Homo sapiens: one gene and its partners. The gene in region 1 interacts genetically with each later gene. Each region holds a gene or a part of one and is shown in the gene's direction. Other genes may lie near its edges.

Region 1 (3,658 bases):
GGGTGGGGAGGCCTTGGGGCCTGGTGAGACAGCAGAGGGTGCTGTGGGGGTGGGTGAGGACAGACAGTCGTGGGTGCTGACACTGCTCCAAGGCCTCAACAAGCCACCCTCTGCGCTCAGATTCCTCCTGTGCACACTAGCCATTTACTCCTGGGTGGCCTAGAGGACCCAGTGAATGGCGCTGTGAGGGGCCTGGCAGGGCTAGGGGTGACACTGTTGTCATTGTCATTAGTCCCAAACTGCCCTCCACAGTGGAATGAAAGAGAGCACCCTGAGTGTGAGCATCTCTTTTCAGTGCCCCAGTGTGTTTAGTTGTCCTTTAGTGCACTTTCATTGCAAGAATACACAGTGACAGAAGATGCTTTTAAATGAAGTAGTATTGAGTTCACATGTTCTGAAAAGCAATTGTTTATGTATCTTGGGACTTATTTGACTGAGAGATGATCCACGTTACCTGGCATCTCAGCTGCTGTAACTCCAGGCCCGAAGGAGCTTTGAGGCTGGAGCCCTGACCTCCCAGCTGTGTGGCAGCAACTTTGGTCACCTCCCTGGGCACAGTCTCCATTTCCAGGTCCTACTGGACCCTGACCTCACAAAGTTGTCTCTGCCGGGTGTTGGAGGGGACTGCCTCAGTCCTTGGGCCCCCAGCCCTGACCCTAACTCCCCGCCCTTCTCTTTCTTCCCACGCCCTCAGGCTTAGAGTTCTGCTTTGTTCCCTCCCCCAGGAGCTGCTGGAGCATGGAGTGTGTGAGGAGGTGGAGAGAGTTCGGCGCTCAGAGAGGTACCAGACCATGAAGGTGCGCAGGGCAGGGCTCGGACCTACCCCAGGAATGTCCTGCCCTGGGAATGACAACACAGTCCACACCATGCACGGGGAGGCAAACAGGGGCAGCTGACCCAGCCCAGGGGTCAGAGAAGGTCTTGCCGAGGAAGTGGCAGCTAAGCTGATACCTGATATGCACAAGGCAGCCAAGTGGAGACAGGCAAGGAAGAAGCTTGTTTTGAGGACAGAATTTTCTAGATCACTCAGCACCATCTGGCTTTTGGGGCTTTTTGTTTTATTTTGTTTTTGAGACAGGGTCTCGCTCTGTCGCCCAGGCTGGAGTACAGTGGTGCGATCACAGCTCACGGCAGCCTTGACTTCCTGGGCTCAAACCATCCTCCCACCTCAGTCTCTGGAGTAGCTGGGACTACAGGCATGTGCCACCACACCAGGTTAATTTTTAAATCTTTCTCGTAAAGATGGGGTCTTGGTAATGTTGCCTAAGCTGGTCTCAAACCCCTATGCTCAAATGATTCTCCTGCCTTGGTCCCCAAAATGCTGGGATTATAGGCATGAGCCACTTCGCTCTGCCTTGACTGTTTTTGATGGAATATTCTCAAGTAGATTACATGCTGTGGCATCTTAAACAGAGCACTGTGAACCAAATGTACCCTTGGGTGCTGCCACTGAGCATGCTGGGCTTGCCCTTGCCCGCCTTCTGCAGGACCTTATGTGTTATTTTCTCAGTGTTGTCAGCCTGCCTGTTTCCATGGCCACCTTCCCTCTGTTTCTGCTCACTCCTGGTCTGATAGGGAAATGCCGTCTGAGTTCTTTTGGATGCCTCGGGTGTGCCTGCTTTGACACCCTTCTGCCAACTGGCTTTGTGGCTGGAGGTGTCACAGCGGTGGCCACATGGATAACTGTCAGTGAAGTGTGGCTTCCTGGGTGGATGGGGCCTTGGGAGGTCACACAGAATGTTGTCAGGATTGACAGGGAGGGCTTCGAAGAGGAGAGACTTGAGCAGTGTGTGCAGGGCAAATGGGCTCAAATATGCAGGGAAGGGGGCAAGGGGCACTGGCAGGGACAGGGGACCAGATGAGTGGGGCCACCGTGGTGAGTGTGGGAGTGAGGGGCCTGAAGATGATGAAATCCCCTTGAAGTGGTGTGAGGTTAGTGAGTACTTTCACTGTCAGCCTCAGCCCCAGCCCTGAAGGCATCTAGGCTGGCAGAAAATTACATTAGTAATGAGAAGTTTATTAACAATATAATTGGGTTAATCTCATCATTTTTAGTCAGGATTCTTTGGGTTGCAAGTGACAGTGACCCACCCCACACCGTTGGTTCACAAAATAAAGGAAAGGAGGGCCAGCAGAGCCCAGGATGGGGAGGGCTGTGGCCGGTCTGCAGGACAACTGGGCTCAGCGACCTGGGTATCACCAGGCCACTCCTCCTCCCCTCTGCCCCTCTGCACGGTGGCTTCGCCCTCTCTTGCGACGCACCAGCTTCTTCCATCGGTTGGAAATGTGGCCACAAAAGGTGCTCGGCTGCCACAGGCTACAGCTTCTGCCACTGTGTGGGCCTGCCCTCAGTCTCAGATCCAGAATTCCTAGGGAGGGACTCTAGTGGCTGACCTGAAGCAGGTGACTTGCTTGGGCTGGGGCCCACCCTCTGTGGGAAGATATGTGAGCACCCCAGCCAGCCCTGCCAACTCTGCTCCTAAATCCACCCTTTTGATTGTTAACTCCTCATTGTTTTTTGCTGTTGGCTAAGGAGGAGAACCACAGAAATTTGTTCCACCTTCTGTTAGGTGGGAGAGGCATGGTTTTTCCAGTGACTTAGGAGCCCCTCGTGCTGATGTGTTAGGGTGACTGTTTTGATTATGTTGGAATCACAGGCTAGAGCTGTGTAAGTCCCTTTCATAGAGGAGAGGAGAGGGGTGTGCGTGGGTTTGTTCCCAGAGACGGCAGGCTGGGTAGTCAGGCTCCAGGTTTGAATCCTTGCCCTGTGGTCTACGGCAGGTTGCGAGTGGGGACGGCGCCTGCCTGGTGCATGGTGCTCCATGGGCCACACCGTCCCGGAGCGGGTGATCATCCGAGTCTAGCCATGAGAGCTCTGCCCAACCGGGCTACGCTCCTTCCCCACAGCTCTTCACCCAGATCTTCGGGGTCGGTGTGAAGACTGCTGACCGGTGGTACCGGGAAGGACTGCGAACCTTAGATGACCTCCGAGAGCAGCCCCAGAAACTAACCCAACAGCAGAAAGCGGGTGAGCCCTCCAGAGAGGCTGGGCCCTGGGCTTCCCTAAACTGCACCCTGGATCCCTCAGCATCAACTCCCTAGAGGGAAGGGAGCAGTCTGGTGCAGAGGGTTTGGTGGCAGCTTTGTGTGGTGGGCTTCCTGGGGTCTCCACCCAGTGCAGTCAGGATCTATCAAAGCCTTTTCTCAGTGGACGATGCTGACCACAGCAACTTCCATGATATGCCAGGGGCTTGTGTCTGCCTACTGGTTAGACTTTGACCAGTGACCAGGGACAGCCTGGGCCTTGGGCACACTGCCCAGTGTGGTGCTTGGTACATGGAGGCCTGCAGAGGTGGCACTGAGCAGCAGAAAGAACATCAGCTTTCAAGTTTGTTAGGCCTGGGTTTGAGTCTTATCTACCATTTGCCAGGTAGGTGACCATTGCCCAAGAAATAACCTCTCTGAGTCTGTTACATTTTCTGTAAAATGGAGAAGGAAGGCTGGGCATGGTGACTCACACCTGTAATCCCAGCACTTTGGGAGGTCAAGGTGGGTAGATCGCTTGAGCTCAGCAGTTCAAGACCAGTCTGGGCAACAGGGTGAAACCCTGTCTCTACGAGAAATACAAGAGTTAGCCAGGCGTGATGGTGGATGCCCG
Region 2 (2,350 bases), on another chromosome or scaffold:
AAGTATTTTCTGTTTTGGAAACAGCTTTTCAAGCTTTAATTTACTCAACCATTTCAGGAGAAGCTACTGTGTGTCAGGCATCCTTAGGTCCTGGACACACTGTTTAACAAGATGGGCCCTGCCTATGGGAGCCCATAATTTGAAGGGAAAGTCAGATGCTGGACAAGTCATCTCACTGTGAGTGAGCCAGAAAAAACAGCATTGTAGGTCAAAGTGGTGCAAAGATCGTGAGGTAGGAAAAGAGACTAAAGTGGTTCTAGGAAAAATACAGGCAGGGTAAAGGAGGATACAGGTGAGGTGTGGGATCAGATCAGGGAGGGCCTTACGGATTTCTGAGCTGGATCTTTTACCCTTTTATTTAGCCAAAGAGGTCATGTAGTTATTTTACTAATTTGCATTCAGATTGTTCTGGCTTTTAGAAACTACAAACATTTCTATGATTAGTATTCTTGAAATGATCTTGTTGTAAGTTTGTGAGTACATCTGGAGGGAAACTTTGAGAAGGATTGCTGAGTTCAAGGGCTTGTGTGATTAAGTTTTAAAATTATAAAATGTGGTGCATCCGTGCTAATAATTACCATTCAGCCATTGAGGAAAATGAGGTAGATTTATGCATATTGATGAAGAATGAAGACCACAATATCCTGTGTTACAGGAAAGAGATATTGCTAAGTGGCCCTTCAAAATAGTGTAAATTGTTAAATCCGTCTACAGTGGATGAAGATGTCTGCTTCCTCCAGGTTCACTATCAATGTTTTAAAACTCTAATCTTTATCAGAAAAGAAATATTTCATTGTTTTAAATTTGTTGTGTGTATGGTGAACATATTTGATTATTGGCCACTTACAGTTTTTCTTTTTTTATTAACTTCCGGTTTGTGTTTTTCTTTGATTAAAGAGCTCTTTGTAGATAAAATTAGCTCCCCTTATATTGCAAACTTCTTTCCTCTGGAGTCTTCTGTCTATGGTTTCCTTTACAATTCAGTGGTTTTAAGTTAAATAGTCACATATCATTCAATTCCTTTTTGACTTCTGGGTTTTACCAGGCTTGTAAAAGAGCAGACTAATTCTTGAGTACTTAGGCTTTAGAGAACTTTCACACCTACGGACAAAGATAAGGAAAACCATGATTTTCTAATCTTTTGAGAAAACAGCTCCTTGAAGAAAATTCAGTGTTAAATCCTACTTTTGTTACTGTACAGAAAAATCACTTTTTAAAAATAATTGCTAAGAAGTAAGGTACTTGGATTTTAAGAATGAATGTTACCTAACACAATGGTTCTCCATTTTTTTTTGTTTTGTTTTAAAGACCCTTTTACACTCTTAGAAATTATTGAAGACCACTTTTGCTTGTGTGATCTGCTCTTTTCTGTATTAGAAATTAAGACTGAGAAACTTAAGATATTTATTCACTAAGTAATCACATTACATTAATGTAAATTTTTTTTTAACATAAAATATTTTTTGTTCTGGAAAAGTTTGGAGAAGAATGGCATGGTTTATATTTTTGAAAATTTGCTTTATTTGGCTTAATACAAGACAACTGGATTCTTATCAAATTCTATATTCACTCTTACATCTGTTAAAATATACGAAGAAAACCTGGCTTCACACAGATACGTTTTTAATAGTCTTTTCAGATAAGTGTGGATAGGTTTTTTTGCCACTACACTAAAACCCACAAGTGGCTGTTTCTGAATATAAAATTGCAATGTGGAATCTGAAACCGTATCAATGAGCATTTTGTATCTTGACAGTAAAATCCATTGGTCTATTTTGCACTTGGAATGTATCTTATATTCTTGCATCTATCTTGCATTGACCATTCAGAAATACTGGTTCACTGAGATATGTAGATACCCACATGTTGAGATGCTTTATTATACAATATCAAAAGCACATTAATACCACAACTGATCTCATCAGAAAAGTCTAAGCACCTGTCAAGCTAATGACTGCAGATAAGTTTTCCAAAATTCCTTTTTTTGGCCAGATGCAGTGGCTCACGCCTGTAATCCCAGCACTTTGGGAGGCAAGGCGGGCGGATCACCTGAGGTCACGAGTTCAAGACCAGCCTGGCCAACATGGTGAAACCCCGTCTGTACTAAAAATACAAAAATTATCCGGGTGTGGTGGGCGCACCTGTAATCCCAGCTGCTTGGGAGACTGAGGCAGGAGAATCGCTTGAACCCAGGAGGCAGAGGTTGCAGTGAACGGAGATTGTGCCACTGCACTGCAGCCTAGGTGAAAGAGTGAGACTCTGTCTCAAAAAAAAAATATTCATTTTTTAATTTTTGACAAAATTTTAACGTTTTATATTCTGCCATTGGCAACAAAGGCTGTCAGTTTTC
Region 3 (3,658 bases), on another chromosome or scaffold:
TCACTGTAAAGCTGGAAAGGGACGAACTGGTGTAATGATATGTGCATATTTATTACATCGGGGCAAATTTTTAAAGGCACAAGAGGCCCTAGATTTCTATGGGGAAGTAAGGACCAGAGACAAAAAGGTAAGTTATTTTTTGATGTTTTTCCTTTCCTCTTCCTGGATCTGAGAATTTATTGGAAAACAGATTTTGGGTTTCTTTTTTTCCTTCAGTTTTATTGAGGTGTAATTGACAAGTAAAAATTATATATAAATACAATGTATAATATGATGTTTTGATGTATGTGTATATACATTGTGAAATGATTACTACAGTCAAACTACTTAACATATTCATCACCTCACATAATTATTATTCTCCCCCCAGGGTGAAAGCATTTAAGATCTACAAGCTACAATTTTCAATTATACAATGTTATTATTAACTATAGTCACTATGCTGTCCAGTAGAGCTTCAGATCTTGTTCATCTTGTGTTCCTCCCTCCCCACCCTCAGTCCCTGGAAAACAGGTTTTAAAGATAGTTGCTAATCCTTATTTCTTCTAAATTTTTAAATCAGTTGCTGCCTCAATTTCTATATGAGAAATGACTGATTGATTTCATTTTTCTGTTCACGCTACCATTTTCATATCATACTAGCACATGTTACCCATTAACTGTATTGCAGATTTGGTCTCACAAAATTCTTCTAAAATAACATTTTTAAAAAGCATATTAATCAAAAATAAGCTTTATATTTCTGAAGCTTGTTTGAGCATAGAATGCCTTTGGATAAAATACCATTACCTAGTAAAGTGTGAACTTTTATAATCCATAAAAATTATTCTTTTATAAGAATATTCATAAATGTAGTTAGATTAATAGAAGATTCTCGATTCTTTGATCAGAAAACTAAGGACTATATTGAAAAATCAGTGACAAATTTAATTCTTATAGTACATCTGAAAGAAAAAAGAAAACTCTTGGGAGAACTTTTACAGTGATTTAATTTTGCTGTTGATATATTTCTTTGGGTGGTAAGTATGGCAAAACATGTTAAAATTTAATGCAAAGAGATTTTGTACATTTTTCCATCTCTAAGAAGGACAAAGCCTAAGCCCCTCCAGATAGATAGAAAAACTCATTTAGAGAGTTCTCCTTCATGTTAATCTAATTTCTTCTTAATTCAGCTGTAAAACAGAAATAGAATGATCGTATTAATCATTTAAAGCTGTGTAATTGCATAGATTCCTTGTTCCTTTACCCCCTCTTATATCTTGTTTCCTATCCTTTGTGACTTTTTTTGCATTATATATAAGGATGCCGAAATACTGTTTATTGTTGATAGTTTACAAAATTGAATCTTACATTAGTGCATAATTTTGGTGAATGTTGAAGATTATGGTAGATTGCCTTACATTTCTGCATATTGTTTGCACCTTGGAATGATAGCACTGGCATGAATTATAGAGCTGAGGATCTAAAGATTTTTACTTTGATTTATCCCATTATCATCTGCAGGGAAACAATTGCTTTTACTGATTAAAAATGCAGGCTGGGCACAGCGGCTCACGCCTGTAATCCCAGTACTTTGGGAGGCCGAGGCGGGCGGATCACAAGGTCAAGAGATCGAGACCATCCTGGCCAACCAACATGGTGAAACCTCATCTCTACTAAAAATACAAAAATTAGCTGGGTGTGGTGGCGCGTGCCTGTAATCCCAGCTACTCAGGATGCTGAGGCAGGAGAATCGCTTGAACCCGGGAGGTGGAGGTTGCAGTGAGCCGAGACTGTGCCACTGCACTCCAGCCTGGTGATAGAGGGAGACTCCATCTCAAAAAAAAAAAAAAATGCAGTAGCAAAAGCGATGGTAGAAATTTAAAACAGAGTTGATGAGCAGCATATATTTTGGTAGTGGAAAAAAAGGTAAAAAATTTTTTGTAATAAAATAGAAAAATTTTGTAATGTGGAGGCGCAGAACACTAGATTTAAGCCAGGGGGTCTTAAATTGTGTTACATTCCTTTTAAAGTCTGATGGAAGGTATAAATGTTCTCCCCTCAAAAAATGTGCATAGTGTACATAAAATTTTGCAGTTTTTATTACATTGAAATATATTCTTTTAGACAGAATGTAAAAGAACCTTCATGAAAACTATGTCACTTTTTTATGCAAAAACCAGTGGCTACTACATGAGAGCAATGAATAAATCTAAGTGGTACAAATTAACCAAAATTAAGCTTTAGTTCTGTTCAATACTAAATTTTAATGAAAAGACTGCTATTTAACTTTTAAAATAACAAGTTGAAACTATGCTCTTTGACTTTGACTTTGCAACTTTTATATGATCTTTGATATCCAATCAGTGTTGACTTTGGTAAAAAGTGCTGAAAATGCTATTTTACAAAAGAAAGAAGAGTAAATGGAATCTGTAGATTCTATTGCCTGATGAAAGTAGACGTGTCAAGAAATAAGAATTCTCCAAGGCTCTTCAGATAAATTCATGTTTCATCATTTTCTTTGCCTTCAAGTTACTGAGATCATTTTTGGCAAGATCTGTATCATTAATGCTGTGTTAGGAAAGAAAAGATTATGACTCCACATTTTACTTTCAAGGTTGAAGAGTTAAACTGTTTAAAAAGAGTGTATGTTATCCTGTAAACAGCAGTATCAGGCTGTAGAATTTGTCTTCTGAAAGCAGGGAACTTATATATAGCAAAGAACTTCATAGTGCTCCCATTTCTTGACAAAACCTCTCGAGAAGCTCTTGATTGAAAGTCTTGGCTTTCATGAATCTGGCAGCTTTCACAATAGTGGATTTTTCATGACAAATCATCTTACACAGGGAATTATTCAAGGGTTGGCACTTGAAACAGTAGAATACTTTCACAACAAGAGATAAGATTTCTTTCAGGATTGATGACAGTCTTGCACCCTAGCGCATACTGATGAAGAGAGCAGTGGGTGACCATGACATGGAGAGCTTCTGTCTTTACCAGTGCCCCAATATCAGATGTGTTGTCTGGCAGTAAGGTGTACTGTCTGCCTACAGAATACTGAGGTTTCTTCAGGAGAAGTTTTTTGGTAAAGAAACTTTACCATTTTGAAAGTGTTAATGTTTTCTGAAGCTTCCAAAAAGATTCCAAAATGGGAATGTTTCCTTGATTGTGTCACCATGCTTGCATTTGATGAAAACTTGTAGCCGGCTATACTGAGAAATCATATCTGAAGAAAGGTGGTACTTCCAATCTTTTTGTGACCTACTTTATTATTGTTTTTTTAATGTCAGGGTTTTTTTTGGAATGGAGAAAAGTATTTGATAGAGGTATTGCAACAGTCTTATTCTTCTTCATGCTACAAGTATATTTGACTCTTTCTAAGATACTTGCCTTCACTGTTCAACTGTGTGACTTTTTGTTTGTTTAGCATTACAATCAATATCCTAGTAGGATGATTTAATCAATGATTTTTAATTGGAACAAATAGTTTTTGTAATGGTCTAGGCTTTTCCAACTTAACTGTGCTCTCACATGTGGTCTCTTTTTCTCCCTCTTTCCTCCTTCTTATACACTCTCACCCACACACATATGCATACATACCCTGTCTGATGTATCTGCTTCTTCAGAATAGTTGGCTGTGCTCTGCTGATGATGAGAACTTGCCATTTAAGAAGGACTT

Evidence for each region.
Region 2: changes in POLM (region 1) and PTTG1 impair growth when combined (synthetic growth defect), as found in Homo sapiens cells (one large-scale study listed by BioGRID).
Region 3: changes in POLM (region 1) and PTEN impair growth when combined (synthetic growth defect), as found in Homo sapiens cells (one large-scale study listed by BioGRID).

What each region holds. Positions count from the first base shown.
Region 1 is NC_000007.14:44,075,879-44,079,536, reverse strand, and holds part of POLM (DNA-directed DNA/RNA polymerase mu), read left to right. Parts: intron 1-725; coding exon 726-797; intron 798-2,907; coding exon 2,908-3,028; intron 3,029-3,658. UniProt on the Homo sapiens protein: Gap-filling polymerase involved in repair of DNA double-strand breaks by non-homologous end joining (NHEJ). Participates in immunoglobulin (Ig) light chain gene rearrangement in V(D)J recombination.
Region 2 is NC_000005.10:160,424,776-160,427,125, forward strand, and holds part of PTTG1 (securin), read left to right. Parts: intron 1-2,350. UniProt on the Homo sapiens protein: Regulatory protein, which plays a central role in chromosome stability, in the p53/TP53 pathway, and DNA repair. Probably acts by blocking the action of key proteins.
Region 3 is NC_000010.11:87,933,125-87,936,782, forward strand, and holds part of PTEN (phosphatidylinositol 3,4,5-trisphosphate 3-phosphatase and dual-specificity protein phosphatase PTEN), read left to right. Parts: coding exon 1-127; intron 128-3,658. UniProt on the Homo sapiens protein: Dual-specificity protein phosphatase, dephosphorylating tyrosine-, serine- and threonine-phosphorylated proteins.